2 separate regions of the Homo sapiens genome follow, and region 2 is linked to region 1. The links come from fine-mapping of genetic effects on plasma protein levels. Region 1 holds a variant in brackets. A gene starts in the other region. All regions are shown on their forward strands.

The links. PIP is the chance, under the fine-mapping model, that this variant and not a neighbour inherited with it causes the effect. Protein levels are from antibody-based Olink assays in UK Biobank. Linkage for the fine-mapping came from a reference panel and not from the study's own genotypes, which makes the PIPs less certain.
Region 2: BLMH starts here. The variant in region 1 is fine-mapped to the plasma level of the BLMH protein (UK Biobank, PIP 0.94).

The regions. Positions count from the first base shown.
Region 1 is chr3:51,901,217-51,909,552 of GRCh38, forward strand. It overlaps IQCF1 (IQ motif containing F1), which reads right to left and starts at 2,137. Exons shown (of 4, transcript NM_152397.3): 1 at 2,054-2,137; 2 at 1,769-1,873. The coding sequence starts at 2,056. RefSeq lists an enhancer at 695-1,894. The variant C/T (reference allele first, on the strand shown) is at 4,777.
Region 2 is chr17:30,286,985-30,295,320 of GRCh38, forward strand. BLMH (bleomycin hydrolase) reads right to left here and starts at 4,960. Exons shown (of 12, transcript NM_000386.4): 1 at 4,823-4,960; 2 at 4,327-4,524; 3 at 2,389-2,498; 4 at 822-963. The coding sequence starts at 4,835. LOC124903971 (a long non-coding RNA gene) reads left to right here and starts at 7,706. Exons shown (of 2, transcript XR_007065700.1): 1 at 7,706-8,336. It also overlaps the pseudogene RNU6-1267P. RefSeq lists an enhancer at 4,181-4,240 and silencers at 4,691-4,760, 4,961-5,370.

The DNA of each region.
Region 1 (8,336 bases):
TGGTTGTGGGCTGCATGGTAGCTCTTTTCCAGGATTCTACAGCCTGGAGTAACAAGTCGTGCCATGCTCTTTCTCTCTGCTATATTCTGAAGTCTGGCACCCTGTGGGTCGGCCCCCGAGGGTCATCCAGCTTCCATCTCCCAATACTAAGTTCACTTCATGTCTCTCACGACAGGGAGGAAACTTAGCATTCCTTGGAGACCTGAACGGATGCAGTGAGCTTAAGAATTTTCAAGAGCTTATCAATCAGTCAGCCCTTGTTCATCCCCGAGGGGATGTGTGGTGGTATTGTGGTGGACCTTTACTGGACGCTCTGATGAATATCTGAAGTGGCACTTGTGTTTTAGTCCAATTGGCTATCCCTTTCACCCTGGCATTTCATCAACCAGAGGAAGGAAAAATAAGACATCGTAAAGTGAGAGAAGCCCCTTATGGGTCTTTTGACTCTCACATCTATTTAAATGCAATTGGAGTCTAGCAGGGAATACCAGATCAATTTAAAGCCTAAAATCAAATAGCTGCAGGATTTGAGTCAATATTTTGTTGAGAGACAATTAATAAAAATATAGATTGAATAAACTACATATGCTACAACCAACAGCGATTTATTAACTACACTAGAGATGGTGTTAAAGGAATAGCTGAGCAATTAGGGGCTACTAGCCGGATGGCTTGGGAAAATAGGATAGGCTTAGACATGATAATAGCAGAAAGAGGAGGAGTTTGCCTCATGATTAAAACTCAATGTTGTACCTTCATCCCAAACAACACTGCCCCTGATGGAAGTATAACAAAGGCATTGCAAGGTCTGACTGCCCTGTCCAATGAGTTAGCCAACAACTCAGGGTTAAATGAGCCCTTTACAGGATGGCTAGAAAAGTGGTTCAGTAAATGGAAAAGAATTATAGCCTCAATTCTCACTTCCCTGGCAGCCGCAATGGGTGTATTTATTCTTGTTGGGTGCTGTGTCACACCATGCGTCCGTGGGTTGGTGCAAAGAGGCTCATAAAAACAGCACTTACTAAAACCTCCCTTAACTATTCTCCACCTTATCCAGAGAAGCTTCTTCTTTTGGAAAATCAAGCAGAACATCTAAGCCAAGACATGTTAAAGAAGTTTAAAGAGAAAGAGCTGTAAGGAAATGCAAGAGGAGAAGTTGTTAGGTATGAGTTCTAAATTTCTCTTCAAAGAATCAGTATGTCAATATGTTCAATTCTTTGCCTTCTACTTTTAAACTTAACTTCCTTGTAAAGCAACCTTTTTCAATTACCTGCTCCGCCCTGACTCATTCTGATTACCTACTCCCCCCTGACTCATTCCGATTACCGGCTCCACCCTGACTCATTCCAATTACCTGCTCAGTCTCCACCCTGACTCATTCCGATTTCCTGCTCCGCGGTAACCATTTTTCCCACCAAACCACTCACCCCATCACTCTCTTTAAATTAGCCAATCAGAATTAGTTTAGCCTGTGTGGTCTAACCCTAGCCAATAGGGGAATGACACAGCAGCAGGGGCCACGTGCATCAGGGATAAGAACCCCTTCCCCTCCCTTGTCCAAGTGTGCACTCACCATTGCTCCATCTGTAAGGGCGCACCCTTCTATAGAAGTACCTTGCCTTGCTGAGAATTAAAAAGAAAATTTTATATTTGAGTGCTATTTCTTTTGCGGCACAGAAACTTCACTTATAACAGCACCATGCAAAAGACACTAGCTACTAGCACTAGGACATGGGATCAATGACATCCAAGTCAGGGCTCCTCCTACCTCTGCCTTTGACTCTGCTCCTAAGGACAAATGGGTTGGCATCTCCTTCTGCTGAGGCTCATCTTCTTTTGAGGGTTCCTTCGTCTTTTGGGGCTGCTTCTCCTCCTGCAATCAGCATTAGGGGAAAGGCAAGAGTGAGGCTGCGGTCCCTCCCTCTCCATTCAATATGGCACACATCCCCAGCTTCCAGGGCTTCTTAGAGTCTTCAGTGTCAGGGGGTCCCTTCACCCTGAGAGATCTATGGGGACATCCCTAACAAGCCTGGTGTGTCTGGCTTTCTCTTACCATTGGTCACATATGGATTGATTGTAGATGGTTCAAATCCCCTCACATCTGTGTTCATCCAGCCATAGCATAGGCAGGAAGGGTGGAGGAAGAAAGGCCTGTGATGTCATAAGGGCACCTGTGACTCAGGCACCAGATGGCTCCTAACAAGTGAGCCCCCTCCAAGGGAAAGACAAAAGCGCTGCCCATTCTTTTCTGCCAGAAATGGCCAAAGCCCTGACTTCAAAGGCAAGATGCCAGAAATACTGGCCCATTGCTGTAAGGTTTATAAAAAGCCAGTCATTTCTAATAACATTTAATTGAAAAAACTTGGCCAGGCGCAGTGGCTCAGGCCTGTAATCCCAGCACTTTGGGAGGCCGAGGCAGGCAGATCAACTGAGGTCAGGAGTTCGAGACCAGCCTGGCCAACATGGCAAAACCTTGTCCCTACTAAAATTACAAAAATTAGCTGGGTGTGGTGGCTGTCACCTGTAATCCCAGCTACTCAGGAGGCTGAGACAGGAGAATCGCTTGCACCCAGGAGGTGGAGTTTGCAGTGAGCCAGGATCATGCCACTGCACTCCAGGCTGGGCAAGAGAGCAAGACTCCATCTCAAAAAAAAAAAAAAAAGAAAAGAAAAAACTTATATAGCCAACTTAAATAATCAATAGGGGATTAATTTAATGATGCATAGTTCATTCATACTATAAAATACTACATAACTATTAAAAATAAGAATTTGATCTATATTACTAATGAGGAAATATATAAAGATGTATTTATAAGTAAAAAACTAAAGTTCCTTTTGATCCCACTATGCAAACAAAACTAGGAACATAATTATACACATAAAATTGAATAATTTATGCCAGAAGTTATTACATGATACACATTATATGTTGTAAATGAATATAAAGAAGAAAAAAGGTATATATACCAAACTATTACCAATGATTACCTTTGGAGAGGAGAGTTAAATTGCTGACTCATGCCTAACACAGTCCCCAAGGAACCCCATGAGGGCCTGAGGACCAGCCTGGACTCCATCTGAGGCTCAAATGGGTCCAAGTGCTCTCCTGTCTTCCTCTGTCCCTGGGGTCTCAAGGCCACAATCAGATGGATGAAGGTGGCCACTGCACAAGCATGGCCCCTTTCTGCCTGATCTCGGCCTCTGAAGACCCAGCTGGACAGGGTAAGGCCATGAGAGGCACAGCCCCTGGGGTCACTGAGAAGTGCACTTGAAATGTATAGGGTGAGTATGGGAGAGGCCAATGTGGATCTGTAGGGGGAATGTAGGGAAGAGGAGGAGGCCATTTGAGGCTGGGATGTGAAGTTAATGGGATGAGGGGGTGGAGAATATGGGAATACATTGAAAGATGTGGGAAGTTGTGGGTGTGATATAGTTTGGCTCTGTGTCCCCACCCAAATCTCATCTTGAATTTTAACTCCCGCAATTCCCATGTGTTGTGGAAGGAACCTGGTGGGAGGTGACTGAATTATGGGGGCAGGTCTTTCCTGTGCTGTTCTCATGATAGTGAATGAATCTCAAGAGATTTGATGGTTTTAAAAATGGGAGTTTGGGCTGGGTGCAGTGGCTCATGCCTGTAATCCTAGAACTTTGGGAGGCTGAGGCGGGAGGATCATGAGGTCAGGAGATCAAGACCATCCTGGCTAACACGGTGAAACCCCGTCTCTACTAAAAATACAAAAAATTAGCCAAGTGTGGTGGTTGACACCTGTAGTCCCAGTTACTGGGGAGGCTGAGGCAGCAGAATGGCATGAACCTGGGAGGCAGAGCTTGCAGTGAGCTGAGATCATGCCACTGCACTCCAGCCTGGGCGACAGAGCAAGACTCCATCTCAAAAAAAAAAAAAAAGGCAGTTTGCCTGCACAAGCTCTCTTTGCCTGCTGCCATCCATGTAAGACGTGATTTGCTCCTCCTTGCCTTCCACCATGATTGTGAGGCCTCCTCAGCCATGTGGAACTGTAAGTCCAATTAAACCTCTTTCTTTTGTAAATTGCCCAGTCTTCAGTATGTCTTTTCAGCAGCTGAAAATGGACTAATACAGTAAATTGGTACCAGTAGAGTGGGGTGTTGCTGAAAAGATACCCAAAAATGTGGAAGCAACTTTGGAACTGGGTAACAGGCAGAGCTTGGAACAGTTTGGAGGACTCAGAAGAAGACAGGAAAATGTGGGAAAGTTTGGAACTTCCTAGAGATTTGTTGAATGGCCTTGACCAAAAAGCCTGATAGTGATATGGACAATAAGGTCCTGGCTGAGGTGATCTCAGATGGAGATGAGGAGCTTCTTGGGAACTGGACCAAAGGTGACTCTTATGTCGCCAAAAAGAGACTGGCAACATTTTGCCCCTTCTGTAGAGATTTGTGGAACTTTGAACTCGAGAGAGGTGACTTAGGGTATCTGGCAAAATAAATTTCTAAGCAGCAAAGCATTCAAGATGTGACTTGGGTGCTGTTAAGAGCATTCAGTTTTATAAGGGAAGCAGAGCATAAAAGTTCAAAAAGTTTTCAGCCTGACAATGTGATAGAAAAGAAAACCCCATTTTCTAAGGAGAAATTCAAGCCGACTTCAGAAATTTGCATAAGTAATGAGGAGCCAAATGTTAATCCCCAAGACAATGGGGAATATGTCTCCAGGACATGTCAGAGGCCTTCACAGCAGCCCCCCATCGCAAGCCCAGAGGCCCAGGAGAAAATGGTTTCATGGGTTGGGCCCAGAGTC[C/T]CTGTGCTGTGTGCAGCCTAGGGACTTGGTGGCCTGTGTCCCAGCCACTCCAGCCATGGCTGAAAGGGGCCAATGTACAACTCAGGCTGTGGCTTCAGAGGGTGCAAGCCCCAAGCCTTGGCAGCTTCCACATGGTGTTGAGCCTGTGAGTACACAGAAGTCAAGAATTGGAGTTTGGGAACTTCCGCCTAAATTTCGGAGGATGTATGGAAATGCCTGGATGCCCAGGCAGAAGTTTGCTGCAGAGGCTGGGCTCTCATGGAGAACCTCTGCTAGGGCAGTGTGGAAGGGAAATGTAAGGACAGAGGTCCCACACAGAGTCCCTATTGGGGAACCGCCTAGTGGAGCTGTGAGAAGAGGTCTACTGTCCTCCAGACCCCGGAATGGTAGATCCAGCTTGCACTGTTCACCTGGAAAAGCCACAGACACTGATCGCCAGCCCATGAAAGCAGCTGGGAGGGAGCCTGTACCCTGCAAAGCCACATGGGTGGAGCTGCCCAAAACCATGGGAACCTACCTCTTGCATCAGCATGACCTGGATATCAGACATGGAGTCAAAGTAGATCATTTTGAAGCTTTAAGATTTGACTGCCCCACTAGATTTCGGACTTGCATGGGGCCTGTAGCCTCTTTGTTTTGGCCAATTTCTCCCATTTAGAATGGCTGTATTTACCCAATGCCTGTACCCTCATTATATCTAGGAAGTAACTAACTTGCTTTTGATTTTACAGGCTCATAGGCAGAAGAGACTTGCCTTGTCTCGGATGAGACTTTGGACTGTGGACTTTTGAGTTAATGCTGAAATGAGTTGAGACTTTGGGGGACTGCTGGGAAGGCATGATTTGTTTTGAAATGTGAGAACATGAGATTTGGGAGGGGCCAGGGGTGGAATGATATGGTTTGGCTCTGTGTCCCCACCCAAATCTCATCTTGAATTATAACTCCCACAATTCCCACATGTTGTGGGAGGAACCTGGTGGGAGGTGATTGAATTATGGGGGCAGGTCTTTCCTACGCTTTTCTTGTGATAGTGAATGAGTCTCATGAGATCTGATGGTTTTAAAAAATGGGAGTTTGGGCTGGGCGTGGTGGCTTACACCTGTAATCCCAGCACTTTGGGAGGCCGAGGCGGGCAGATCACCTGAGGTCAGGAGTTCGAGACCAGCCTGGCTAACGTGGTGAAACCCTGTTTCTACTAAAAATACAAAAAATTAGCTGGGCATGGTGGCTTGTGCCTGTAATCCCACTACTCAGGAGGCTGAGACAGGAGAATCGCTTGAACCTGGGAGACAGAGGTTACAGTGTGCCAAGATGATGCCATTGCACTCCAGCTTGGGCAACAAGAGTGAAACTTCGTCTCAAAAAAAAAAAATGGGGGTTTGCCTACAGTAGCTCTCTTTGCCTGCTGCCATCCATGTAAGACACGACTTGCTCCTCCTTGCCTTCTGCCATGATTGTGAGGCTTCCCCAGCCATGTGGAACTGTAAGTCCAATTAAACCTCTTTCTTTTGTAAATTGCCCAGTCTTGGGTATGTCTTTATCAGCAGCCTGAAAATGGACTAATAGAGGGTGTGACAGAGAAGGTGTGATATGTGTTCATTTGAGGATAATAGGATACAGGCCTTTGTTGTAACACTAGTCAGTTTTTTACTTCCCCCAACTCCCAACACTCCCTACACCTCCCCACCAACACACACACACATACTCATGAAAGCCTTGTGCTTCATTATCTGGAAGAATAAACCCCAAACTCCTCACGACCTAAGTAGTGGGCATCGGTTTTTTGAGAGAGAAGAAGACAAAAAAGTCCAGGTGTGGTGGCTCACACCTGTAATCCCAGCACTTTGGGAGGCCAAGGCAGGTGGATCACTTGCACCCAGGAGTTTGAGACCAGCCTGGGCAACATAACGAAACCCTGTATCTACAAAAAATACAAAAATCAGCCAGGCATGGTGGTGTGCATTTGTAGTCCCACCTACTTGGGAGACAGAGGTGGGAAAATCACCTGAGCCCAGGGAGGTCGAGGCTGCAGTGAGCCATGATTGCACCATTGCACTCCAACCTGGGTGACAGAGCGAGACCCAGTCTTTAAAAAAAAAAAGATAGAAAATTTAAATCAAAAATCTAATTACTGATCAGAATATATGGGGTAACTCACATCCTGTGAAGAATAAAAAGCCCTGGCAACATCAAGAGAGGAAATGAAACGTATAAAGGCTGGTCTGGGCATGGAAGGGCTTCCCTCCAGAGTAGCCAGAAAGGAGGAAGAAACGCCACTGCATGGGAATGTCAGAGGGCTCCACCTCCAGTTAGGATGCAGAGGGTCACAAAATACTCCCGCAACAACTGCACAATAAGAAAACACCTGACAAACTTAAAACATCACATAGCAGTAGGTATGGAGCATCTAAAACTGAATTCTAAAGTGGCTCTGTCCCTGTCTAGTTGCACGGAGGTTAGTGGCTGCTTTCATGCCTGTGGATATGTACCAAATCTCTGGACACAAGGACCTGCAGGAGTAAGCCCGCCATATGCAGTGAAATGCTGTGATGGGGAGAAACCAGCTGAACTTGAACTTTCAATGGTTGCATGCGAGCTGCAAGACAATTTGGAATCTGGAAAAGCCACACACACACACACACACACACACACACACACACACACACACACACACACACACAGTGAGTCCTCTGCTGCCACCATTCCCTCCCATGGGACTTCTGCTGGACCCACAGCAGCACAGGGAGCCAGGGGCTGGCCTGGACAGCAGAGAGAGCTCTCAAGTCTCACAGTGCTAATATTCCACACTTTTGCTGGAGAAAGGAGCCTGATCCCAGCCTCAAGACATTTGAAACTGAGGGGGATGCAAACCAACTAAAGTGTCAAAACAGCCCCAACCTAACTGAACTCCTGATTAGTTGAAAAATGGCCCACCCTAGTCTCTACTGCTTTTATCTAGTGTTTGCATACAATTTTAAAAATGAGACACATGAAGAAGCAGAAAAATGTGACCTGTAATCAAAAGGAAAAAAAGCAATAGAAGCAGACTCACAGATGACTCATATGTTAGAATTAGCAAAGACTTTGAAACAACAAAGATTATATAAATAGACATATAATCGAAAATAATTTACAGGTAAAGGTAGAAAAAAATGAATAAAAAGATGGAGAATTTTGGCAGACAAATGGAAACTCTAAAAAACAGAATACAAGAAATGCAATTTTTTTTTCTACTTAAAGAGACAGGGTGTTGTTATATCATCCACTTTAGTCTCAAACTCCTGAGCTCAAGAAACACTCCTGAGTAGTAGGGACTACAAGCACGTGCCACCATGCCTAGTTCTGAAATTCTAAAACTGAAAAATACAATACCCAAAATGAATAGTTCACTAGAGAGAGTAACAAAAGAAAGGATTATCAAACTCAAAGGCAGGTCAAAAAATTATACGAACATGATAAATACAAAGAAAACTACATATAGGGACAATAATGAAATTGATAAAAATCAAGGGAAAAGAAAATTGTTTCTAAAAAACCAGGTGGTTCCTGCCTGTAATCCC
Region 2 (8,336 bases), not on the chromosome of region 1:
CGATATTTTGCTGGCTTACTTCAGAAAATCTTATACTTCATATTATGAAGCAGGGTTTTTTGTTTTTTGTTTTTTGTTTTTGACAGAGTTTTGCTCTGTCACTCAGGCTGGAGTGCTGTGACACGATCCTGGCCCACTGCAGCCTTGAACTCCCAGGCTTGACCTCCTGAGTAGCGGCAACTATGGTGCATGATACCATGTGCAGCTATTTGTTTTATTTTCTGTAGAGACAGGGTCTCACTATGTTACCCAGGCTGGTACTGAGCTCCTGGGCTTGAGCAATCCTCCTGCCCTGGTCTCCCAAAGTGCTAGGATTACATGCCTGAGCCACCTTACCCAGCCTAAGTAGGTTTTTAATGTGCATATTTATCTGTCTATGTTATCCTTTTTATCTACTATACTTTGTCACTTCTCAGCCTTTTGGTCAAGCTCAAGTGTATCTATCATACTTTTGTAAAGTGCTCAGCATGATGAGATTTCCCCAAAAGATGTTTTGAAGACATTTTAACACAGCTACAGTTTTAATGTGTTTCCTGATTACATCAATGGAGAAGAAAACAATTTTTTCATGGAAAATTAGTTCTCCTTAATACTACCTTTTCTTCTCCAACCCATCCTTCACAGTAGCTCTCTCCTTAATCCTCATTTAAGAAGGCACTTTATAGGTGAGAATGTGAACTAAAGGTCCTTAGAAATAACTATATATCCTTCTTGGAGACCAATTCTACTCTGTACACAACCACCAAAGAATTGGCCCATGCCTAACTACAGGCTTACTTAATCATGCTGAGTTTCAGTTCCATTAAAGAAAGAACTTTTACCAACAATATTAACAAGCATATCCCATTGGCCACCATCATTTGCAGGGTTCATAAGCAAAAACTGCACCAGCCTCCCATCCTCAGGCTCCTTTCTCTGGGCTGTGTCCACAAAAGCACTCAAGAAGAAATAACAGCGTTCAACCTAAAGAGTAAAGAAAGTTAAATAACATTAAAAGAAAAAAGTGTCAATAATTTTATTGGCATTATCAACAGAATGGGAGTCTTGGAATTACCATGGAATCAACATAATAGTTTTTTTTCTTTTTAAAAACATGAAACCTTCATGAATTTGCATGTCATCCTTGTACAGAGGCCATGCTAATCTTTTCTGTATCACCCCAGTTTGGGGACTTACGATGCTGAAACAAGCACCATAATAAGTATTTTTAAACTAAAATTGGTAAATAAACATCAGTATCTGACTTCATCAGAATATCTGAAGTTTCTTCTTTTACCTGTGTATGTATCCCAATATATTGTGTATATGTGTACAGTGTTTACATTCCAATGCTAAAACAAAACATTTAATGAACACCTATGTAATATATATTTTATTTACTTATTTATTTTTAGACAGGGTCATGCTCTGTTGCCTAGGCTGGAGTGCAGTGGTGCAATCTCACTGCAGCCTCAACCTCCTGAGCTCAAGCAATCCTCCTACCTCAGCCTCCTGAGTAGCTGGGAGGACAGGTGTGCACCACGCGTGGCTAATTTTTGTATTTTTTGTAGAGATGGGGTTTCGCCAGGTCCAGACTGGTCTCAAATTCCTGGGCTCAAGCAATCCTCTCACCTCAGCCTCCCAAAGTGCTGGGATTACAGGCATGAGCCACCAAACCAGGTCAGTAATATACATTTTGAAGATTAGGAAATGGAATATGGCCAGGAGTGGTGGCTCACACCTGTGATCCCAGCACTTTGGGAGGCCAAGGCAGGCAGATCACTTGAGGTCAGGAGTTCGAGACCAGTCTGACCAACACGGTGAAATGCCCTGTCTCTACTAAAAATACAAAAATTAGCTGGGCATGGTGGCATGTGCCTGTGATTCCAGCTACTTGGGAGGCTGAGTTGAGAGGATGGCTTGAACCCAGGAGGCAGAGGTTACAGTGAGCCGAGACTGTGCCACAGCCCTCTAGCCCGGGTGGCAGGGTGAGACTGTCTCAAAAAAATAAATAAACAAATAAACAATCAAATAAAATTATTTACTGTTTTTCAGACAAGTTCTTGAGAGGGAAATTAGGTCCTAGAAAAGAACAAATAACCTAAAAAGATGTTAAAAAGGGAGATATATTGAATTGAATATTGAATATAAAATTTAAAATTTTAAATAGACAAGCAAGCAGTAAGATGAGTCAGTAAACTTATTTCATTGCAAAAAAATGGCCACCTACCAACCAAAAACAGTTCTGCCTTTGAAAGAGTCAACTTTTGATACTCTGGAAGTCAGAATAAAAGGTGTCTCACCTATTATGAAAGGGCAGGCTATAACTGGAAAAGCTACAAAAGAAGAGGCAGTCCCTACCAAGGCTGATATCAATACAAAAAGAATCTTGCCAGATCTGTCCCATACCTTGTCCCAAAAAAACAGGTAAGATTGGCTAAACTCAAATTCTTCAATATTTAACTTTTTCATGAATGGAAGCCTCATAACATTCAGACAAGAAAAGATCCAGCATCGCCCTGAAACAAGAAAGCACATCAAGAAATTATGAGGGTTCACATAGACTGCACTGCTCCAACTGTATTTCCCACCAATGAACTCATGACACGATCTGGACAATTCAGAAAGAGTAAATCAGAAAGAGCAGAAAGATTAAAAACAAAACAAGAAAGGTGGTAATTATTATTAGCAATATATATGCAAAGGTTTAATATCTTTAACACAAAAACACTCTTTACGTATCAAATAAAGAATCCATTTTTCAGAGTAATGCCTTCTCCAAATTGTACTCTACTTCAAAATAAATTAACTGAGAGCGCCATTAGAAAAGTCTTTTAAGGTCTTAAATACAGGGAAATTATCTCTTTTCTGAGGGAAAATTCTGAGGGAAAAACTTTGACTTGTATTGGGTATAACCTTTTTACTAATATGAAAATATGTTTATAATATATTGGTAAGTGAAAAAGATAGGTAGCTTACATAACAATGTATAAGGTATCAATGCATATTAAACACTATTAAACACACACACACACACAAAACTTGACAAATATACAAGAAAAATATTTACTTGGTATTTACAAATATTCTACATTAAACAAAAATAATTTTGTAACAAGAAGAAAACTCTAGTTAACTATAGTGTTTTATGAAAGTCACTAGTGCCTATTAGTTCGTCTTTACCTTACATTTACCTGTATGTCACCTCTCTTCTATATGCTATATATTTCTAGTAGAGGGGATCTGGATGCACTGGTGATGTGAAAACTGCATGAAAATAAACTACACAACTCACATGCTATTTGGATCTTTTGTATGTAAAAGTGACACTGCAAAATGTGTAAGACCTGACCTGTTCCCTAACGGGTCACTGCAATCTAAACTATGTAGGACCACTGTGACATTACTAACTGGATCATCTGTAGCCTGAGAGCCCACACCACTCCAAGCACTTTCTTCTAAAGCAAAACATTAATTATTGTAAGGTCTTGACTTTTTCCTTAACATTTAAAAAATCAACTTTATTCAGGTATAATGTACATACAATAAAATGTACTCACGTTAAATGTGTGCTTTGTGAGTTCTAACCGACTCTAAACAAGCACTGATGTGCTTCCTGTCCGTATAGATAGACTGGGGGGTCGTTTTTAAGTATAGAAAGACTTTAAAAAATCCGTTTAGTACAATTTTGTTGTGAGAATGTGCTCCTTATTTAGATTGCTGGATATCCAATCTTTCACTATACCTGTTTTTTCTGAGAGTGGTGCTAGAAAGCAGATAGCAAAACGAGACTTCTTGACCAGCAAGGCATGAGAACAGAACTTTTTTCTGTATTACAAACTGATCTACTGGTGGGAACTGAGCCCATCAGCACATTAGCTTCAGTTGTAACCAAGAAGCATATTTAAAAGTAACATCTGATGACATTTTAATGTAATTACATTGTATCTTTTCTATTTCATAGTATAGGGCCTTCAGGGCATTTCTGGGGAGTCCTCCAAAGATATGAACATTTTCACATGTTCTGTTTTGTGACCAAGACCATACATCTCCAAGACACGGGCTACAAACCACACAGCATTGGAACATAATATAGTCAATTACACTCAAACGTATACTCATGGACATGTCACTTTTGTACTCTAACCGCATGTACTAACAAGCCACAGAACAGCAAAACAAACCACATGGGTAATGTTCTTAGACCTGCCTGTACCTGTGCCTCATTCTTTACGAATTTACGACCAGTTCTTTCAGTACGAATTTAAGACCACTCTTAAATAAGACACCAAAATGGGACGCTGTCAGGAAGGTCAAGGAACGTATGGGAGAAGTGGAAGCCCACACCTGAGCTCTTCTGGTTGGTGATTGGCTTGCCCTCCTGGGGCACGGCGTGCTGGAACACATGCTGCGCGCGCTGCACCGTGGCCCGCTTCAGACAGATGTCCAGCAGGTCGTGGGTGGTCCCGACATTCTGGGCAAGTACGAACTGGGGGTCGGAATTCAGTTTCTGTATCAGAGCAGCTACCTTCTCCGAATTCAGTCCTGTTGGGAGACCAAACAGGATTTTAACGCAAAAAGAGGGGGAAAGGGCTGATCTGGGGCTCCCGCGTCCCGAATCTAACTTCGTAAGCGCATCCTGGGGTGCCCGCTGCAGCGGGGAAACCCATAAGCGGCATCCTCCTCCAAGGAGCTGTCTCCCTCCAGGCCGATCCAGCCTGCCCCGAAAGCTCCCTCCCCGCCATCGCCAAGGGTCCCAGCCCCCGGCCTTCCCCGCCGCCGGGCCTCACGGGGACCGCGGAGCTCCTCCAGAGGACCGCGGCGGGGGACGGCGGCACCTCACCCGAGCTGCTCATGGCGCCCACGCTGCCCGGCGGGGTAACGGTAGCTTCCAGGGTCCTTGGGCGAGCGCCGGGATTGCGCTGCGGCTCGCTGCCTAGGGGGCCCGACCTGTCTCTCGCACCCGGAGCGCCGGAAAAAGGAAACCGGCTCGGCGGCGGCGGCGGCGGCGGCGGCGGGGAGGCTGAGGCTGGGAGAAACGGGGTCCGCGGAGGGACAAAACTCCCCCCTCGCGTTGCTGAGTCAGCGCCGTCGGGGCTGGCCCCGCCCGGGGGAGGGCCGACGGGGGCGGCCTAGCTGACGCGCTGGGTCCGCCAGCGCCCGGGGGCTGAGGCCGCGCCTGCCCCCGCGCAGGACCGCACAGATGGTCTGCGCGCCAGGGCGGCGCCGGCGCCTTCTCCCCCTAGGTTCCCGCCTCCGGGCCGCGCGGGCGCCCTCCCGGGATCAGGCCCGCTCCAAGGAGGGAGGCTGACGGGTTCCCTGTGGGCCCAGACCCCCAGTACTCTAGCATCGGGGAATCGTCCCCAGGAAGCCTTGTGAGAAGCCAAAAGGGAGCTCGAGGCGGGAGGGAGGAGCTGAGAGGTCCCATAATTAAGCGTCGGGCTTAGGACGGGTCGATATGTCACAAGGAATGCACCCGAAGGCTCTTCCTATAGGCTTCGTTTGCTGACCAATCACTGCATTCTCAATGGCAACTTGTTGCTTGGATTCTCATCAGAAGCAAATAATTGTCTTTGAGGGGGAATGGGAACCAAGCTCTTCCCCACCCACTCCAAAGCTACTACCAGAGTTCTACAAATAGACATCTGCTCATTTCAAGAACACTACCCATCTGGTCTTCACGGAGTCCACGAGTGGCTCCTGTATAGTCCAGCATGTCCCGTTGGGTTTAACTCAGGAGGATGACAGAGGCTAGCCGTATGCATCAATATTGTTTCGCCGAGTTCTCTACAAAACTAACTGATGCTCCCCCTCTAGGCTTTCAAGATAACTCAACAGTTTCCCAAAGTTTTGAGATTGTAAAAACCTTGTTTTTGTTGATTCCGTGTTTCATGCCCTGAAATCTCAGCCCTTAGTAAGATGCTGGGATAGAACCCACAGAGAGTAAAACAAAAACACTGAAACCCTGTATCTGCTATTCAAAACGATGAGGTTGAGTGTGTGTGTGTGTAACCTAGAATCTAGGTCTTCTTAGATTGAAAATCATCGCAGTTCTAAGGAACTCTGATATCTGGAAAAATCCATACTCAGGCACCAATCAGTCATTTGAGAAAGCACGGTTTCTATGTCCCTAGAGAGACTCGGCTAAAAATTGGGGCTATAACATAGCAACTATCTTAAGTGGGCCCATCAACCATCCTATTCTGAGGTTCTTTCAATATCTGAAAAAGAAGAGGCTGAAAATTATACAGAAAGAAATCACTGGTCCTTTCACAAAATGATGTTCAAGCATCCTGCCCAATTCAAGTCATAAATTTTTATTCAGTATCTAACATGTACTAGGCACTGGACAAACTGCTGATGACATAGAGACGAACAAAGCTTAATCTTGCCGTTAAGAAACTCAATGTAGTAGGAAAGAGATGCAAAACAACTTTTAGACTATCTGTAGTAGCATACCAATAGTGCTGTAGACTGTAGAAGCAATGAGGAGAGCACTGTCAATTAGGGCCAAAGGGTGCCTGAAAATAGAAGTGACAAGAGAGCATGATCTTGAAGAGTGGATGAGATTTTTACAAGTCAAAGAACAGGAGAAGGGCATTCAAGGCACCAGCGAAGGCGCAGTGAATAAAATCATGTTCAAGAAAGGGTGCATCATAATCGGATGTGGCTAAGAGCAAGGCATGTTTTGGGAGCAGAGGCAAGGTGTAGGACTGGAAAAGTTTTGTAGGTTTGGGCCAAGATATAAAGGGTTTTATGTTCAATGCCTGAGCATCTGGACTTTATCTTATGGTTAATTAGAAGACAAAATGGGTTTTGAAACAAAGGAAAAATATGCTCAAGTCTGTGTAAAAAAAGAAACCTGGTGGCAGTGGGGAGAGTAATTTGGAGGGGAGGGGCTCTGGAGATAGGGAAACTGGTTAGAAGGTTCTTCCAGTAGTGAACTTGGGAGAGGACAAAAGCCTTACATTGCGGAAAGGGAAGAGGCATTGATAATCTTGAAGTTTTCAGCGGAATAAGAAGATGGAAGGTGGTGTCATTAACCAAGAGAGGGCATACAGAAAAATAGGCATATTTGCATATTTGCAAGTGTGCAGATCTGAACTGAGTTTGGGCCATAGCAAAATTAGGATGCCCCACAGGACACCCAGGAAGAGAAGTTCAGGACGTAGATGAAAAGATGTCTAGAGATTAGATGAGACACATAGGTTCGAGGTGGAACAATGAAAGTCAGCAGGGTTACAGAGGGAAAGAGGATAGAGCAATAAAGAGATGAAGACCACAGATAGTGCCCTGGGCTGCAATGTGCAGTTGCACAGGGTGTTCATGGCACAAGGGCACCAGGCTGAGTGTGGTGAGTAGGGACTAAAATGCAGTCCAGGCTCTGCTTGCCAAGCCATGCACCCTGGCCCAGGCTGTGCACAGAGTATGATGTACCTTTCACTACTTTTTTTTTTTTTTTGAGATGAGTCTCACTCTGTCACCCAGGCTGGGGTGCAGTGGCATAATCTCGGCTCACTGCAACCTCCACCTCCTGGGTTCAAGCAATTTGCCTGCCTCAGCATCCTGAGTAGCTGGGATTACAGGCACGCACCACCATACCCGGCTAATTTTTGTATTTTTAGGAGAGACGGGGTTTCACCATGTTGGCCAGGCCGGTCTTGAACCCCTGACCTCGTGATCTGCCCACCTCGGCCTCCCAAAGTGCTGGAATTAAAGGCATGAGCCACCACGCCTGGCCCCTTTCACAACTTCTTATAAGGATGCCATATGGGAGTAGTATTAGCTCTGAAAATGATAATGTTTAAAGTATGGGTGAAGACAGAGGAGCCAGCAGAAATAGAAAGATCAGTCAGCGAAGTAGGAGACCCGGGGAGTTATGTCCTGGAATCCCAGGAAGGCAAGGAGAGGACAGTGAATTGAATTAAAAGCTGCAGAAAGTCAAGTAAGATTGGTTTTGGCAACTGGGTTACAGGCAACCTTAGAGAGGGCAGTTTTAGTGGAAGGGAAGGGTGGGCAGAAGCCACATCGTAATGAGTTGAGAGGGAGGTAAATATTAGGGAAGCTCTTTGGGGAGAAAGGGTAAATTTGTGTCTACTGGAGGATGAGAGGAAGGAACCAGTACAGATGAGAGATTAAATATGTGTCAGAGAGGATACAATTGCAAGAGTAAGAGCTCAGGAGGAGATGGAATCACTGGGGAAGGTGGAGGGGACCAGTTTTACAGCTATTGCCACCCTTTCCATACTGGCGATTACATTTCTCCACCCCATGCCCAGAGATTTCTATCATCATCTCTTTGCTGGCCTCCTGCTCTGTCCTCATCATCAGGGTGGCACCCTTATTACCAGATTTCC